Linked DNA regions of Homo sapiens: region 2 is linked to region 1. Evidence: fine-mapped expression QTL. Tissue or cell type: whole blood. Region 1 holds a variant in brackets; the other region holds the start of a gene. All regions are shown on one strand. Distances are from middle to middle.

The links. PIP is the estimated chance that this variant, and not a neighbour inherited with it, causes the effect.
Region 2: CCNE1 starts here. The variant in region 1 is fine-mapped to the expression of CCNE1 in whole blood (TOPMed, PIP above 0.99).

Annotation. Positions count from the first base shown.
Region 1 is chr19:29,737,597-29,745,771 of GRCh38, reverse strand. No RefSeq gene overlaps it. Among named protein-coding and RNA genes, the nearest start is that of C19orf12, 26 kb to the right of the region's middle. RefSeq lists enhancers at 1-366, 367-868. The variant A/G (reference allele first, on the strand shown) is at 3,385.
Region 2 is chr19:29,807,113-29,815,287 of GRCh38, reverse strand. CCNE1 (cyclin E1) reads right to left here and starts at 3,297. Exons shown (of 12, transcript NM_001238.4): 1 at 3,136-3,297; 2 at 2,710-2,756; 3 at 2,512-2,599; 4 at 2,251-2,319. The coding sequence starts at 2,732. RefSeq lists silencers at 1-50, 3,214-3,843.

The DNA.
Region 1 (8,175 bases):
TTGACAAGAAGCCCAGGGTCCTCCTCTGTCCTGCCGAAGATTTAAAGGGGAAGTTTGGGTAAGAAACAACAAACTTGACCAACTTGACAACGCTGTTTATTTGTTTGCTTTAAAACAAAATCTACTTGTTTGAGGAACAGTGATGAAAATGAGCGAGTGTCTGTTCTCAGGACAGTCTGTCTTTCCTGTGGAACTCAGGTGAGCCAGTCCCTCTGCCTGTGGTTCTCTGGGGGCAGTGTGTTCAGGGAGTCCCAGGCAGGGGCTGGCTTGCTCTGGGGTGTCCAGCAGAGGGCCAGAGAGCTTGCAAGCCAGACCTAGGGGGCTCCCGTGGGGCTCCCACTGCCCATGAAGCCCTTCCGTCCCCAGTGCCTTTGCTCTTGTTGTCCCTCCTGCCCCACCCTCTAGACCCCAGATCTGTGCATGGCAGTTTTTTCTTGTCACTTGGCTTTAATTGCAAATGCGCCCTCTTCGGGGAGGCATTTCCTGACAACCTGATCCAAAGTGCCCTGCCCTGCGGGCCTCCCACTCTCAGCCCACCTCGCTTTATTTTCTCCAGTACACGAATCGCAATCTCCATCATCGATGGCCATGCACCGAATAATGTTTGGGTCAAAGGCAGTGTGCAGTGGTGACAGTGGTCCCATCAATGATAATACTATATTTTTACTGTACCTTTTCTAAGTTGAGATTTGTTTAGGTACACAGATACTTAACCACTGGGTTCCAGCTGCCTGCGGCATTCAGCGCAGTAACGTGCTGTCTGGGTCTGTGGTCTAGGAGCCACAGGCCACACCATGCAGTCTAGATGTGCAGTAGGCAACCCCATCCAGGTTTGTGTAGTGCACTCTGTGACGTCCACACAATGACAACATCACCTCTCCATGCATTTCACAGGACATGTCCCTGTCACTCAGCGACGCTTTAGATCTTGTTGGCTGCCTTCCCCAAGCAGAACATGGGCTCCCTGAGAGGAGGGAGACCATTCTCTGTGGTGACCATTCAGAGCAGTGGTGAGAACAGGGCCTGGCCCACCTGGCAGGTACCCGGTAGGCATCTGTAGAGTGAATGAGAGTAAAGGAGAAAGACTGGCCCTTCCTGTGCACATAGCTGAGATGGGAACTCTGGATGTTGACACAGGTCAGTCATCCTTTGGTTTTTTTTGTTTGTTTGTTTGTTTGAGACAGATCTTGCTCTGTCACCCAAGCTGGAGTGCAGTGGCACCATCTAGGCTCTTAGATTCAAGTGATTCTCGTGCCTCAGGCTCCCCAGTAGCTGGAACTACAGGCATGTGCCACCATGCCTGGAGAATTGTTTGTATTTTTAGTAGAGACAGTGTCTCACCCTATTGCCCAGGCTGGTCTTGAACTCCTCATCTCAAATGATTGGATCTCAAGTGATCCACCCACCTTAGCCTCCCAAAGTACTAGGATTACAGGCATGAGCTGCCGTGCCTGGCCACGATTGCCCTCTTGTCCTTACTCCCAAAAGAAGCTTTTCCTAAGTTATTCTGATAATTCCTGCTTGAGCAAATCTAGATAATTGAGGTATAAGCATTGGGTGGGGCATTTTTTTTAAAATTGTTGTTTTCATTGAAATTGCCTTAATTCTCCCATTTCCTCTGCCACTGTGGACAGGACTAAGCTATTTGGGCCTCCTCTCTCTCTGCTCTGAATCGCTGTCTATCATGGTCACCAGCACCTCTCTTTTTTAAAAAAAATTTTTTTTAAGAGTCAGGGTCTTGTTCTGTTGCCCAGGCTGGAGTGCAGTGGTGCAATCATAGCTCACTGCAGTCTCAATATCCTGGGCTTGAGTGATCTTCCTACCCCAGCCTTTGGAGTAGCTGAGACAACAGGTGTGCACCATCACACCCAGCTACTTTTTTTTATTTTTTGTAGAGACAGAGTCTTGCTATGTTGCCCAGACTTGTCTCAAACTCCTGGGCTTAAGCAATCTGCCTGCCTCAACCTCCCAAAGTGCAGAGATTACAGGTATGAGCTACTGTGCACAGCCAGCACCTTTTCTTGGACAATGACATTTCAGCCAGCCCCTGGTTTCATGGCCAGATCACTGAATGGGCCAAGGCAGTTGGTCCTTTCCTTCTCTTTTCCCTCAAGGGAGGCTTTTCTCCTGCCCAGCATCTCTTTTTTCTTTTTTCTTTTCTTTTTTTTTTCTTTCTTCGACGGAGTCTCACTCTGTTGCCCCAGTGGGAGTACAGTGGCACTATCTCAGCTCACTGCAACCTCCACTTCCCGGGTTCAAGTGATTCTCGTGCCTCAGCCTCCCAAGTAGCTGTGATTACAGGCGCCTGCCATCAGACCCGACTAATTTTTGTATTTTTAGTAGAGATGGGGTTTCACCATGTTGACCAGGCTGGTCTCGAACTCCTGACCTCAGGTGATCCACCCATCTTGGCCTCCCAAAATGCTGGGATTACAGGTGTGAGCCACTGCATCCAGCCCCAGCATCTCTTTTCTGTCATTCTTGTAAGAGCATCCCAGCTAGTCTTGGGGAATCCGTCTTTCTCCACTTTCAGACCTTGCCTCTTGGGTGGGGCCAGCAATGCCCCCTCTAAACCCTGGCCACAGCAAAGGTTTAGAGGGGGCATGAATTGGGCTAGGGAGAGAAAGGGGCCCCTGGATTTCAGCTGGAGCCACAGGAAAGGGCTCTTGCTTCAGGTGTCCTGGGTGTTAGGGCTGGGGGCTGTGCAGCTGCGATGGCACCAACACAGGAGATGTGAGGCTCTGAAGAAGCCGTGGTCTCTGCAGTTACGCCAAGTTTCCTTCATGCCAACACTGGCTTGAGTTGCACATTCTGGCACAAGCTCCTGGGAGGCCCTTGATAGATCCTTGTCTCCTCTGGGCTCCACATTCTGTGCAAACATCTTTATCTGTGGACACAGCCTCGAGCTGGCCATTGACCCTTCCTCAGGAAAGACAGACCCCCATCCACAAGTGTGTGGAGCCTCTCAGTGTCTGGGAACTGCAATGGCCTTGGTCATCCATGTTAGCCAATGACCTTAACCACATACCCACGGGGCCTGGCCACACCCCGTAGCTGACTGTGAAGATGACCCTAAGAACCATATAGGCAGCCAAGAAAAAAAGTCCAGAGACTCTGTGATGAGATGGGGTGAGGGGGGTACCTTAGTCTGTTCAGGCTATTTTGACAAAGTACCGTAGACTGAGTGGCTTATCAGAAACAGAAATTTAGTGGTGGCTCACACCTGTAATCTCAGTACTTTGGGAGGACGAGACAGGTGGATCACTTGAGGTCAGGAGTTCAAGATCATCCTGGCCAACATGGTGAAACCCCATCTCTCAGGTTACAGATTGCAGACTTCATATTGTATCTTCACATGGCAGAAAAGGGGCAAAGAGCTCTCTG[A/G]TATCCTTTTTACTTATTTATTTATATATATATTTTTAAAGATGAGGTCTTGCTATGTTGCTCAGGCTGGTCTTGAACTCCTGGCCTCAAGTGATCCTCCCGCCTCAGCCTCCCAAAGTGCTGGGATTACAGGCATGAGCCACCACAACCAGCCTGGGGTCCTTTATATAAGGGCACTCACCCCATTACTGTGGGCTCTGCTCTCATGACCTAATCACCTTCAAAGGCCCCACCTCCTAATACCCTCACGTAGGGAATTAGGATTTCAACATATGAATTTTGGGAGGACACAGACATTCAGAGCATAGCAGGAGGTTCTGGTGAGAGGCCTGAAATACTTCCCCGTCATCCGGCTCCATGGAGCCCTCTGGCCCTGTGAGCCTGTCCCTACAGCACCTCCTGTATTTGTTTAGCCAAGTTATCAGAGTGGCCCCAGGGGACGCAAATCAGCCTGAGATGCCAACAATTAGGCTCATAAGCTCCCTGTGTCAATTTGCTCGGATAGTAGTGAGTACATCTTTGTCTGGGTAGAAGCACATCTTCACACTCTGGAGCTATGGAGGGTAAGCATTTTAAGCTGCAAATATTGTTATTCATAATAGGTTAGCAAATATTTTCAGATTAACTAAGTGTCACACTCTGGAATTATGACTGTGAATCTGACAGCTTCCGATGGTGGTGGCTCCTGCCTCGTTCTCAGGCTGGGAGGCCCCAGACCAGGGACTGTCCTTAGGGGATGGGTAGTCAGACCCTCTCCCCCATCGCAGGGATCCCCTCATCCATTTCCACCCTGAATAGTGTCCAATCCTTCTCCTCTTGGGTACCTGTAAGGATGTGCTACTCACTACTTTCAAAGGCAGAATGCATCCCCCGGCGGGGCGGCTCTGGTTGCCAGAGGATATTTTGGGCCAGCCTTGGGTGCACTGGCCTTTATGCTGGCATCACTCGCTCATGGGGTCACTCGGCAAACATTCCTCTCATGGCTACAGATGCCAGAGCCTTCGCTCAGAGCCAGGGAGTCAGAGGAGGAGGCAGCGCGACCCCTGTACGTGAGGAGCTCACCTCCTGGGAAACAGACAAGAGCACACTCAGCTCTTACACAAGACACAGAGGGGGACCCAAGAGGCTGGGGGACTCTGAGACAGGAGCTGGGGGAGTGGAGGAGAGCCTCAAAGGATGGACACAATACAAATCTACCGAGTTGGGGACTGGGTGGATGGAGCAATGGCAGGCAAGGGAGGGACCCTCACCATGGATGTGGATGGTTAGAGAGGCCATGCAGGCGCGGGGAAAGCCGGTGGGGGTAAGCGTGTCAAAAGTCCTACAAAGCCAGGTTGCCATTGAAAGGGGGTGCTCCGTGCTTCTGGAGACACTGTGCACCAGTCTCAGTGACTCTCCACCCTCCTGTCTTCCTCCCACCTCTTGGGCTTCTCCTTAACCAGACCTCTAAAGGCTGGAGTGCTCCAGAGCTGGAACTTCCACAACAAAACTCCTTGCCCAGGACATAGTGTCTCCACCTCCCCTGTAGCTCAAGCCCAGAAACCTGGCAGTCATTCCTGAGGTCCTTTTTCTTCCATCCCAGTCTCCAGACCATAACCAGTGAGTGGGTCTGTCACTACAGAATGTGTCTTCTACCCTGTCTGCTTCTTCCCTACTCCCCTGCCGCTGTGCTCTAAGCCTCCCCCATCTCTCAAGGGCCAGGCCCCCAGCCGGCCTCCTGTATTAGCTCAGGCCACCATAACAAAATACCATGAGCCAGGGCTTGAACAATGAACAGTTATGCTTCACCGTTCTGAAAGCTGGGACGTTTGAGATCAAGGAGTGTCTGAGTCCATTTTGTATTGCCATAAAGAAATACTGGAGGCTGAGTGATTTAAAAAGAAAAGAGGTTGATTTAGTTCACGGTTCTGCAGGCTGTACAAGAAGCGTGACACCAGCACCTGCTCCTGGTGAGGCCTCAGGAAACTTCCATTCGTGGCAGAAGGGGAAGGAGGAGCAGGCATGTCATGTGGCAAGAGAGGGAGCAAGAAGGAGAAAGAAGGGTTCCAGGATCTTTTTTGTTGTTGTTTTATTGGCCAGAATTTTTTATTTCATTTTTTATTTTTATTTTTATTTTTTGAGATGAAGCCTCACTCTTTCGCCCAGGCTGGAGTGCAGTGATGTGATTTTGGCTCACTGCAGCCTCCACCTCCCGGGTTCAAACAATTCTCCTGCCTCAGCCTCCTGAGTAGCTGAGACTATAGGCACGCGCCACCACACCCGGCTAATTTTTGTATTTTTAGTAGAGACGGGTTTTCACCATGTTTGCCAGGCTGGTCTCAAACTCCTGACCTCAAGTGATCTGCCCGCCTCAGCCTCCCAAACTGCTGGGATTACAGGTGTGAGCCACTGCACCCGGCCCTGGGTCCTGCTTTTAAAAGTCAATCTGGGCCAGGTGCCGTGGCTCACATCTGTAATCCCAGCACTTTGGGAGGCTGAGGTGGGTGGATCATGACGTCAAGAGATCGAGTCCATCCTGGCCAACATGGTGAAACTCTGTCTCTACTGAAAATACAAAAATTAGCCAGGCGTGGTGGCACGCAACTGTAGTCCCAGCTACTCGGGAGGCTGAGGCAGGACAATTGCTTGAACCAGGGAGTCAGAAGTTGCAGCGAGCTGAGATTGCACCACTGCACTCTAGCTTGGCAACAGAGCAAGCCTTTGTGTCAAAAAAAAAAAAAAAAGTCACTCTGATCAGTTTTCTTGTGGACCCATCCTTCCTGCCCCTTATCCCACCCCATTCAGTGGCCTCCCATAGCATCCAGGACAAAGTCCCCAGTCCTAGGGGGCTTAGAAAGCCTTGTAGGCCCAGGCCCCCAACCCAGTCCCTGACTCTCAAACCACTGCAGCCAACCCCTTCGTACCAGTTCTTCAGGGGCCACTTCGCATGGACAATTCCTCCACCTTGTTCCACGGCATCAAAGGCTCCTTCCCTGTGTCCAGCTCCCATAGGTCCATAGGAGACAGGCATCTGATCAGATAACCATTCTGGGCTAATGGGCTGCTTGGTGCCAGGGGATGACTGTACCACTCCATCCAGGTCACACCCTTGCGTTTGTTTAAAATTTAATTTAGTTTAGATTCAAGGGGTACATGCGCATGTTTGTTACCTGAGTATATTGTGTGCTGGTGGGGAATGGGATTTTAGTGTACCCATCATCCCACCCCTGCCTTTTTACTGGGATACGGGGAACTACTGAGTCTTAACATACAAGGACTAGCACACAGGGCGGAGGGGAAGGCAGCACCTTAGACCCCACAGCATTTCAGGTCAAAGGGTATTACTCTAGCAATTCCTTTCTGTCCAGGGTTGATCTTGATTATTTTCAGACAGGGTCTCACTCTGTCTCCCAGGCTAAAGTGCAGTAGTGCAGTCAGGGCTCACTGCAGCCTCGACCTCCCAGGCTCAAGTGATCCTCAGCCTCGCAATAGCTGGGACTATAGGCACATGCTACCACGCCTGGCTAATATATATTTTTTAATTCTTTGGAAGTTTTTAAAATTCTATGTAGAGATGGAGTCTCACTATGTTGCTCAAGCTGGTCTCTAACTCCTGGACTCAAGCAATCCTCCAACCTCAGCCTCCCAAAGTTCTGGGATTACAGGTGTGAGCCACCACGTCTGGATGAATCTTGGTTATTTTAATGCAAAATAACAAAAAGAGAAGTTCTTTGCCCCTAAATGAAAGTATATGTTAGGGAAGATGACCTCGTGACAGGTGCTGGCCCTTGTGTCAATAGACTTGAGTCCCTGGTGAGGCTCTAAGGGGCGGGGCTGGGAGCTAGGACCCCCTGGCCCCAGAGCCTTTCAGCTACCATGTGGCTGGGCCCATACCACACCACCCTTCCCACACTCAGCTGGACATCCTGAATCTGGGCCTGAAAGATTCTACATGCAGACAGCACCTGTAGGGAGGGCAGGGGTGGGAAAAGGCAGGCAGGTGAAGGGTCAAGTTGGCCCTAGTTAAAGGCTTAGACCAGCGACTTCACCAGCTGTGTGACTCTGTGGAAAGTCCTCACCCTCTCTGAGCTTCTGTTTTTTGCCCGTGTACATCGGGGGTTGGAAAATGGGGGAGGGAGGGTGTTTGTCTCCATTCTTAAGGGCTATGACGAGCAACCTCAAAGTTTGTCAAAATGAACCAAGGAAGTCGGCCCTTGGGAATGCACCTGGAACAAGTGCACAGTGGGTAGCAGGAGCCAGGTGGCTTCTGGGTGAGAGGCCTTCCTGGTCACCTGCTTGGCTGCATAGCATAGGAAAAGCAAGAGGTGACCAGACAGGAGGTGCAGAGGAGGGCAACCCCAGAGCCAGGCGTGGGCTCAGTACAGCCTGAAGTTGCTTCAATCATGGTATCCAGGACTATTTCCAGTTCCAAGGGGGGGCCTCCAGGAAGCTGCTAAGCATGCGGTTAATCCTCAGGTCTCCTTGCCCGTCGGGCGAGAAGGAAGTTTTGGCTGCTCAGGAAGGTCTGTATCCAGGAGAAAGGGCACTGACCACACAGGCAAGAGGGTCCCATTCTGGGAGATGGTACCTTTCTCACTGCCCGTGGGTAGCTTGGGCCTGGGCAGCAAACCTGGGGCTTGTGGCTAGCGGCTGAGCTTGGGACCGCTCAGGCTGGTGGGAGGGCTGAGGTCTCCCCATGCTGTCGGGGGAGCCTAAGGGAGATGCTTGCCCTGGCCTCCCAAATTCCAGTAGAGAGAGCCACATGCAGAGACTGAGGGTGCCGTCGGGAAGAGGTGCCCCATACCTTATTCC
Region 2 (8,175 bases), 70 kb before region 1:
GTAAGTTGTTCTTCATTCAGGAAGAATGAATTCTAGTCTTGAAGGCATAATGCTGGGTGCCACCCTCTACAGCCAGATGGCTGGCACATCTGAGAGCAGGCCTTTGGACATAGATGAGTCCAGCAGCAGTTCCCAAACTAGGTGAACCATCAGCAGACAAATGGTTTCCAAAGTTGGCCTTTTTAGGGACCAGTGGATGAGGTAGAATAATTAAGTCTATGTCCTTGAGTGTACACCAAGTTTCAAAGCAAGATCTGTCTGACTTTATTTAGGAAAGAATGAGATAACAATAAGAGACCCACGGGATTCCTAACCACTCCAACTCCTCATACCACTTTTTTCCTTACATAGGATTATTTTCTGAAAAGTAACAGTCCAGGATTCCACTTCAATAGAAAGATTGAGTCTTGTGCAAAAAAATTAAACAACAAAATGGACGTGTTAAGTAGATCTTAGATAAAAGGGTATTCTTTTCATTAAGAACAGCCTAAGATGAAAATTAAAAAGCTTCCATGTGGTCTCGATGAAGCAGTTACACAAGAGTTTGGCACAATGGCTCCAAGTAGCTCAAGACTGTCGTACTGGGGGGAATTATGATAACTCCAGAGAAAAATTCTGTATGTGAGCAGGGAAAAAGGTTCTGTTGTACCCCCAAGTTCTAGTTTCATGAAGCTCCACAAAGAAATAACAAAGATACTGCTCCATACATAGACAGCTAATGTTTAAGCTATCTACTCTACAAAACGTATAGAAATCTGTCGCCATTAATCTCTGGATAACCACGAAAATGCCTTCTAGTGGGAAATGGTATGGCTATTCCGGCAGCACAGCTATCCACACTGTGGCCAGGGGACAGAGCCACAATCCGTCCCAGGAGGCACCCTCGTCACTGCTCAGGCTATCCTTGAGAACAGACATGCTTCTAAAACTCCAAGAATGCAACAGGGACGGCCCTGCTTCATCTTCAGCTGGAAGTTTCTTTTCTATTCAAAACACAGCTGGGAAAATAAACAGTCCTGAATTTCACAAAGTCAGAATTCATTTTATAATACCTAAAAAATCAACTTGCTTGATTTGAATGTACTTTAAGGGAAGAAAAAAAAAACTGGGGATATGCCGTCTCATTTCCGTCTCTGAAATGATTTCTTTGAATGAAAAAGGAAATCAGCAACCCTTTCTTCAATAGTCAGTGGACCCTCCTCAGAAATGCTTATTTCGGGGGACCTTACATGCAGTGACAACTGCTATTTAGAACACGGCGCACTGCGTTGAAACCCTTCACGCTTCCAGATGAACTACCCTGGCTGCTGCTCTGCAAAGTGAGGGGCTTCTCTGCTAACCTAGCTGGGATCCCTGCACTCAGGTCGAACACTGTTTCTGTTCAGCGTTTATCTGTGATAGAGTCAGAAGGCCTGACCAGCTAGTTTAGAGATAGGCTGCTTCCCCCACTGGAGCCATAACTACAGTCTCCAGCCATTTCTGAAAGTAAAGAGATAGTACAAGCTTTTTCTGCAAGAAACTTCTGATATTATAATGATTATCACACTGCATGCAGGAAATTTGGCAGGAACTCCTTAAGGAGAGAAAAGAAAAGCAGTCAAAAAAAAATGTATTGAGACACCACCTATCATTACACTGAATGTTCCACTGATACTCTTGCTGAGGTCAGGCTGAGCTGGGGATCAATGCAGGTAATTGCTGGAGGGGCTATAAGAACTTCCAGGGCCAGAAAGAGGAGAAGAATTTGAAATCTGACCTACAGAAGACGGAGGAGGTCCTTAAACACCATGACAAGAAAAATAGGTGTAGATAGGGGGAAAGTTGTTGCTTATAAACACCCAGGAACCCTCCCCCAGTTCACCAGCTTTTACAGACAAGGCCGAGAGCCCAACTTTGCCCCTGGATGGCACAGGACTCTGGGTTACTTTCTTCCTCTAACTGAGTCTCAGTTTCCTCCTGGGCAGAAGGGGAGGACTGAATACTGTGATGTCCATTCTGGTTCTTCCAGGCTAGGCACATATCTGTAATCTCAGACGGTGCCAGTCAGGAACACCAAGCTTCCTGGAATCCCAGGACTGGCAGAGGCCAGTGCCCACTGACAGGTACAGTGCTGGGCCATATGGGCTGTGGCTGCATTAGAGAAGTTCACTCTCACCAGAGTGTCTCCAGCAAGAGACAAGACAGCATGAAACCCCATGTGACCCAGGGGGAGAAGGACCTCCACAGAGGCCCAACCCCGGGCGGACCTACCTGGCTCCCACACTGGTCCCTCGCCGTCCTGTCGATTTTGGCCATTTCTTCATCTGGATCCTGCAAAAACTAACATGAAGCCACCCCCATGACCCCAAGGAAACACACCAAACAAGACAAAAACAGAGAGAAGAAGAGAAAGCTGATCAGGTTATGAGCTCCGTTCCTGCCCAAGGGACCCCCGCCCCCGTAGGCAGAGCCAAGTCGGGTACCCAGGTGAGATGGGGGGGATGCTCCCCAACCTGTCTCTTTTGTACTCACAACGGTCACGTTTGCCTTCCTCTTCCTGGAGCGAGCCGAGAACTCCGCGCCGCCGTCCTCCTTCATGGTGTCCCGCTCCTTCGCATCCCTGTGGACCCGGGTGGCACCGGGCCGGGTGAGCACCCGCGGCCGCCCCTCCCCCACGCCACCCGTCCCGTCCCGTCCCGTCCCGTCCGGCCCCGCGGCGCGGGCACTCACCGCTCCCTGCGCTCCCTCGGCATGATGGGGCTGCTCCGGCCTGAGGCCTGCGGGGCGGCGCGGGGTGAGGCGGCGGCGGGGTCAGGCCGCGGGCCCAGTACCCCTTCCCCCTTTGCGCGCGGGCGGCCGGGCGAGCCAGGAAGATGGCCGATGGCGGGGTGGCCTGTCACCCGCGACCCGGGCACCCGCCGACCCCCGACCCGGGGTCCCGCCGCCCCCGCCGCCCTCACCGGCCCGTCGCCTCCCGGGGCCCGGGCTGCCTCAGTGTCCCCTCCACCCCACCCCGCCGCGCTCTCAGCACCCTCCCGGGCGCCCCGCGACGCCGCCCGGGGACCCGCGACCCGGCCGCACCCCGCCCCCACCCAGCTCCCCGGCGCGGTCTGGGCCCCAGGAGTCCCTGTCCGCAGCCCGCGGCAGTAGACTCACCAGGGTCTTGTCCGCGGCGGACGGCGCGCTCCAGTCCCGGCAGGCGGCGGCGGCGACGGCAGTGGCGGCGGCGGCGCCGGGAGTCGGCGGGCCGAGCGCGCGGCGGTGGCGGGATCCGCGCCTGCCCCCTACACCGCGCTGGCGGCCGCGCCGGCTGCTCCTGCGCCCGGCTCAGAGCGGGACATTTAAAATCCCTGCGCGCGGAACCGGCCCCGGCCCGCCCTCGCACCGCCCCGCCGCGGCTCCCAGCCCCTCAGCGGCCGCGCGGGACCCAGAGCCCGTCCCGCCCCGTCCCTCGCCCCGCCCCCGGACCCGCCCCTCCACGGCGCCGGCCCGCGAGGCGCAGGGACGGGGAATCAGGGGCGGGGCCGGCGGACAGGGCGGGGCCAAGTGACAGGGCCTGCGCGCCGAGGGCCGGGCGCGGGGCGCGGGGCGCGGGACGCGGGGCGGGGCGGCGGGCGGGACGCGGGAGAAGTCTGGCGCGCGGCGGCGAGGGGCGGGCCGCGGGCGCCGGGGGCGGGGCCGAGCGGCGCTGGAGCGGCAAAAAGCCGCGTGGCTGGCGCGGGTGGAATGTAAACACGGCGGGCGGCGCGGGTTCGGGCCCCGGCAGGGCTGAGCCAAGGGGATGTGTGGGGGGCCTACCCGAGGAGCACCGCCCGCCGTTCCTCCGCGCGCGCTGTCCCGCCAGGCACGCCCTCCCCGCCCCCGAGACGCCGAGTTCCGGGCCCTGAGTCCTGGGCGGGGACATCCCCAAGGTCACCGCGCCTGTGCCTTGGCCTAGAACCAAGGCTTCAGGCCGCGGGGTCTGGGGCTCCCTGGGGGCCGGCTGCTATTCCTGGCCGCCTGTCCATTCATCCGTCAGTGCATTGGGTCGTTCATTCATTCATTCAAGGAATCTGTGAGTTCCTTCCATGCGCCCCTTCCATATGCGCCCCTCCCCCGCAAGCCCTTCCTGGCTCTCTGAAGACCTTTCTGACTCTGGGATTCCCTTGCACCCCATCTCTCACTTAAAGCCTTCCAGTTGAGGCCGGGCGCGGTGGCTCACGCCTTTAATCCCAGCATTGTGGGAGGCCGAGACGGCTGATCCCTTGGGGTGTTCGAGACCAGCCTGGGTAACAGTGAGACCCCCATTTCTACAGAAAAAGAAACAAAAAGCCTTCCAGTTGTTTCGCATAAGGGTCAAATCCACACTCCGTGTCCTAGGCTACAGGCTCCACAGGACCTGACCCTGATCCCCCACCCTCAGACCTCAGGCCTCCTCTCCACAGCTCCTCTGTCCTTTCTCCCTCAAGACTTGTATTTTTTATTGTGGCGGGGGGTGGGGGGTGGCAGGTAGGGATAGGGTCTTGCTATGTTGCTCAGGCTGGTCTCAAACCCATGAGCTCAAGCGATCCTCCCGCCTTGGCCTCCCAAAGTGCTGGGAGCCCAGCCCCTACACAGTCTTGGTGCCTCTCTGTTTCTTGTCTCTCTCCCCACCTTGCCCATCTTGCTCACTGCTGTATCTGTCAGTTCTTGGCATAGTGCCTGGACCAAGGGAGACACTTAAATTGTTTCTGAATGAACATTTGAAAGACAGGCACTGGCCAAGCCCTTGCAGGGCTTACCGGCTAATGAGAGAGACAGGTAAGGAACAGTCATCACCTCAGAGTACCCTCTGTACTCAGCTTCAGGAAGATGTGCGTAAAAGAAGGCTCTGGAATGCTCCCAGGGCCCTTCTTAAGCTAAAGTCTCAGTCCTGTCCCTCACCCTCCCCTAGTGACCGTTTTCTTGAAGTTAGAGCCAGGGTCTTATCAAAGAGGCTCACAAATTCATGATTCCCCCAGGTGCTCTGAGGCCAAGGCTGCTGGGCTACTTGCTCAGCAGGGACCCAGGCACCTGAACCCCCCATCCTGTGCCCGTTAGGAATCACCAGTAACAGGTATCATAAACAGTGTTTCCAAAATGGCAGCACTGGGCTAAGTCCTTCAAAGTATCATCTCAATTAAACTTCACAATAATCCTATTCATGTTGATGCCACAATTATCCTGTTTCACAGATGGCAACTATCTACTCCCAAGGATCATTGTGAAGATTGAGATAATGTAGCTGACTCCTGTACAGTACCTGGCACACAGTAAATGCTCACTAAATGAGTTATTATAATGATGGTAGACAAGACAGTTTTCCTTAGTCATTACAGCAATGTATACACCCACCAGCAAAGATAGAGCCCAAATCCTCCACATCCTAGCTGACATGTTCATCAAGAATAGAATGGATACATAAATGTTGTTATATTAATTCAATGGAATACCACACAGCAATAAAAAGGACAAACCAAGGAATCATGCAGCAACATGAGAATTTCAGAGACAACATGTTGAGCCCAAGAAGCCAGACACACTTATTTGAAGTTTCCATTTATTTGAAGTTTAAGAAAAGACAGCAGTCACCGTAACAGTATTTACCCCTAGGGTGAGGAGTAATGACCGGGAGGAGACCAGGGGAAACTTCTAGGGGCTAGACATGTATGCTTTGATCTGAGTGGTGGTTTCATGACTGTATACATACATAAAAGCTCATTGATTGATACATACATAAAAGTTCACACCTAGGATTTGTGCACTTTACTGAATGTATCTTTTACTCAATAAAAATTAAATAATAATAATAATTATTATTTATTTTTTAGACAGAGTGTCGTCCAGACTAGAGTGCAATGACGCGATCTCAGCTCACTGTAACCTCTGCCTCCTGGGTTCAAGTGATTCTCCTACCTCAGTCTCCCGAGCGGCTGGGATTATAGGCATGCGCCACCTCGCCCAGCTAATTTTTGTATTTTTAGTAGAGACGGGGTTTCACCATGTTGGCCAGGATGGTCTCCATCTCTTGACCTCGTGATCCGCCCGCCTTGGCCTCCCAAAGTGCTGGGATTTCAGGAGTGAGCCACTGTGCCCGGCCTTATTATTATTGTTGTTATTATTATTATTATTTGAGACGGAGTTTAGCTCTTGTTGCCCAGGCTGGAGTGTGATGACGCTATCTCAGCTCACTGCAACCTCCGCCTCCCAGGTTCAATCGATTCTGCTGCCTGAGCCTCCCAAGTAGCTGAGATTATAGGCGCCTGCCACCACGCCCGGCTAATTTTTGTATTTTTAATAGAGACAGTGTTTCACTATGTTGGCCAGGCTGATCTCAAACTCCTGGCCTCAAGTGATTCTCCCTCCTTGGCCTCCCAAAGTGCTGGGATTACAGGTGTGAACCTCTGCGCCCAGCCAATAATTATTATTATTATTTTTTAATTCAAGACATAGCAAAGCAAGACACAATCCCTGCCCTCTTGGGAGCTTCCGGTGTGGAAGGGAGGCTGTCATGCATTTGCAGTGTAGCATGATAGGGCTGGGAAGGGAAGAGTCTTGGGGCTATGACTTCATGTGGAGAAGGATGTATCCAACCCATCCTTGGATGGCAAGAAGTTTGCATGAAGAAAATGGCATGTAAGCCAGAAGGATGAACACATTTAATAGGAACAATAGAAAAGTTGTGTCCAAGATGGCAGACACAGCCTATACAGCAGCTTGGAGTCTTCAGAAACCACTGATGTCTTTTGTTTTCATTTTTATTTTTTTTGAGACGGAATTTTGCTCTTTTTGCTCAGGCTGGAGTGCAATGGCGCGATCTCAGCTCACTGCAACTTCCGCCTCCTGGGTTCAAGCGATTCTCCTGCCTCAGCCTACCAAGTAGCTGGGATTACAGGCATGTGCCATCATGCCTGGCTAATTTTGTATTTTTAGTAAAGATGGAGTTTCACCATGTTGGCCAGGCTGGTCTCAAACTCCCGACCTCAGGTGATCCGCCCACCTGGGCCTCCCAAAGTACTGGGATTATAGGCATGAGCCACCGCACCCGGCCCAATGTCCGCCTTTCTAGGGCAGCTCACCTTTGGGTGTTTGGGTTCATTCCATTCTGTGCTTGCCTCAAGTCCAGAGCTCCCGAGCATTGGCCCAGCCTTGAGGGAGACTGTGGATTGCATCAGAGGTGGTGAACCAGCTGCTGTGTAGGGAGGGCAACACCTCCCCTTTGCTATGAGACTTTGGGAAGGTTCTCCAACCTCTCTGTGCTTTAATCTTCTCATCTGTAAAATGGGTATAATTCTAATTGTCCCAACGTCATGGGGTTGCGGTGAGGGGTAAATGTATTAATACCCCTCAAGTGTTTTCAACAGTATCTGGCACAAGGTAACTGCTCAATTTGTGTTGTTATTACTCATAAAGAGATTTGGGGGTTATTTGCTTAGCTTCCTATATGGTTCAGGCTCTGATGATGGAGGACGGGCACCAGGACATAAAGGTTAAGGAGAAGGAAGACCAAGGGATTGCAAGGGGGAAGTCCTTCCCAGATAGGATTCCTTAACATGGGATCCCTGGACAGCCTTTGGAGACCCAGGAGCCTGCCTACTGTTGGGCCCATGTGCATTTCCCCAGGCAGCTGGAGCCTAACTTCTACCAGGTCCTCAAAGGCGTCTTAGCGGACAATTAAAGAGCCCCGCTGCTAGCAAAGGTTGATCAGGGAAGGTGTGGGCTGTGGCTGGCAGTGGAGCTGGCTAAGGCCTTGCTGTGGGGCCAAGCTGGACATCTGTGGCCACCTGGATGAGCCAGTTATCTTGTGAGGCTACACATGGAAATACTAGAAGAGGAGGGGGCCACACTATACCAGTGTGAGCTGTGAAGTGGGAGCCGGGCAAGATGAACAGGACCAGGCTGTCAACCACAGAGTGTCTGCGGCCCAGCGCCAGGGAACGTGAGCATGGGAAAGCCCTGGAGGCTTGGCTCCTGTCCTCCCTGGGCGGGACAATCTGCCTGCACAGGCCCCCCAGCCAGCCAGGCAAGGGCCCAACCCATGCTCCCCAAGGCTTGGTTCCTGCTCAGAACCAGCGCACACTGCTGTGTAAAGCCACCAAGGTGGGAAGGATGAAAACCAGTGAAAGGGTGCTTCTGTCCCGGCCTAACCTCCTCTTACATTGGGGAGCAAGCCTAGCCATCGCTTCTTCAGATGGAGGC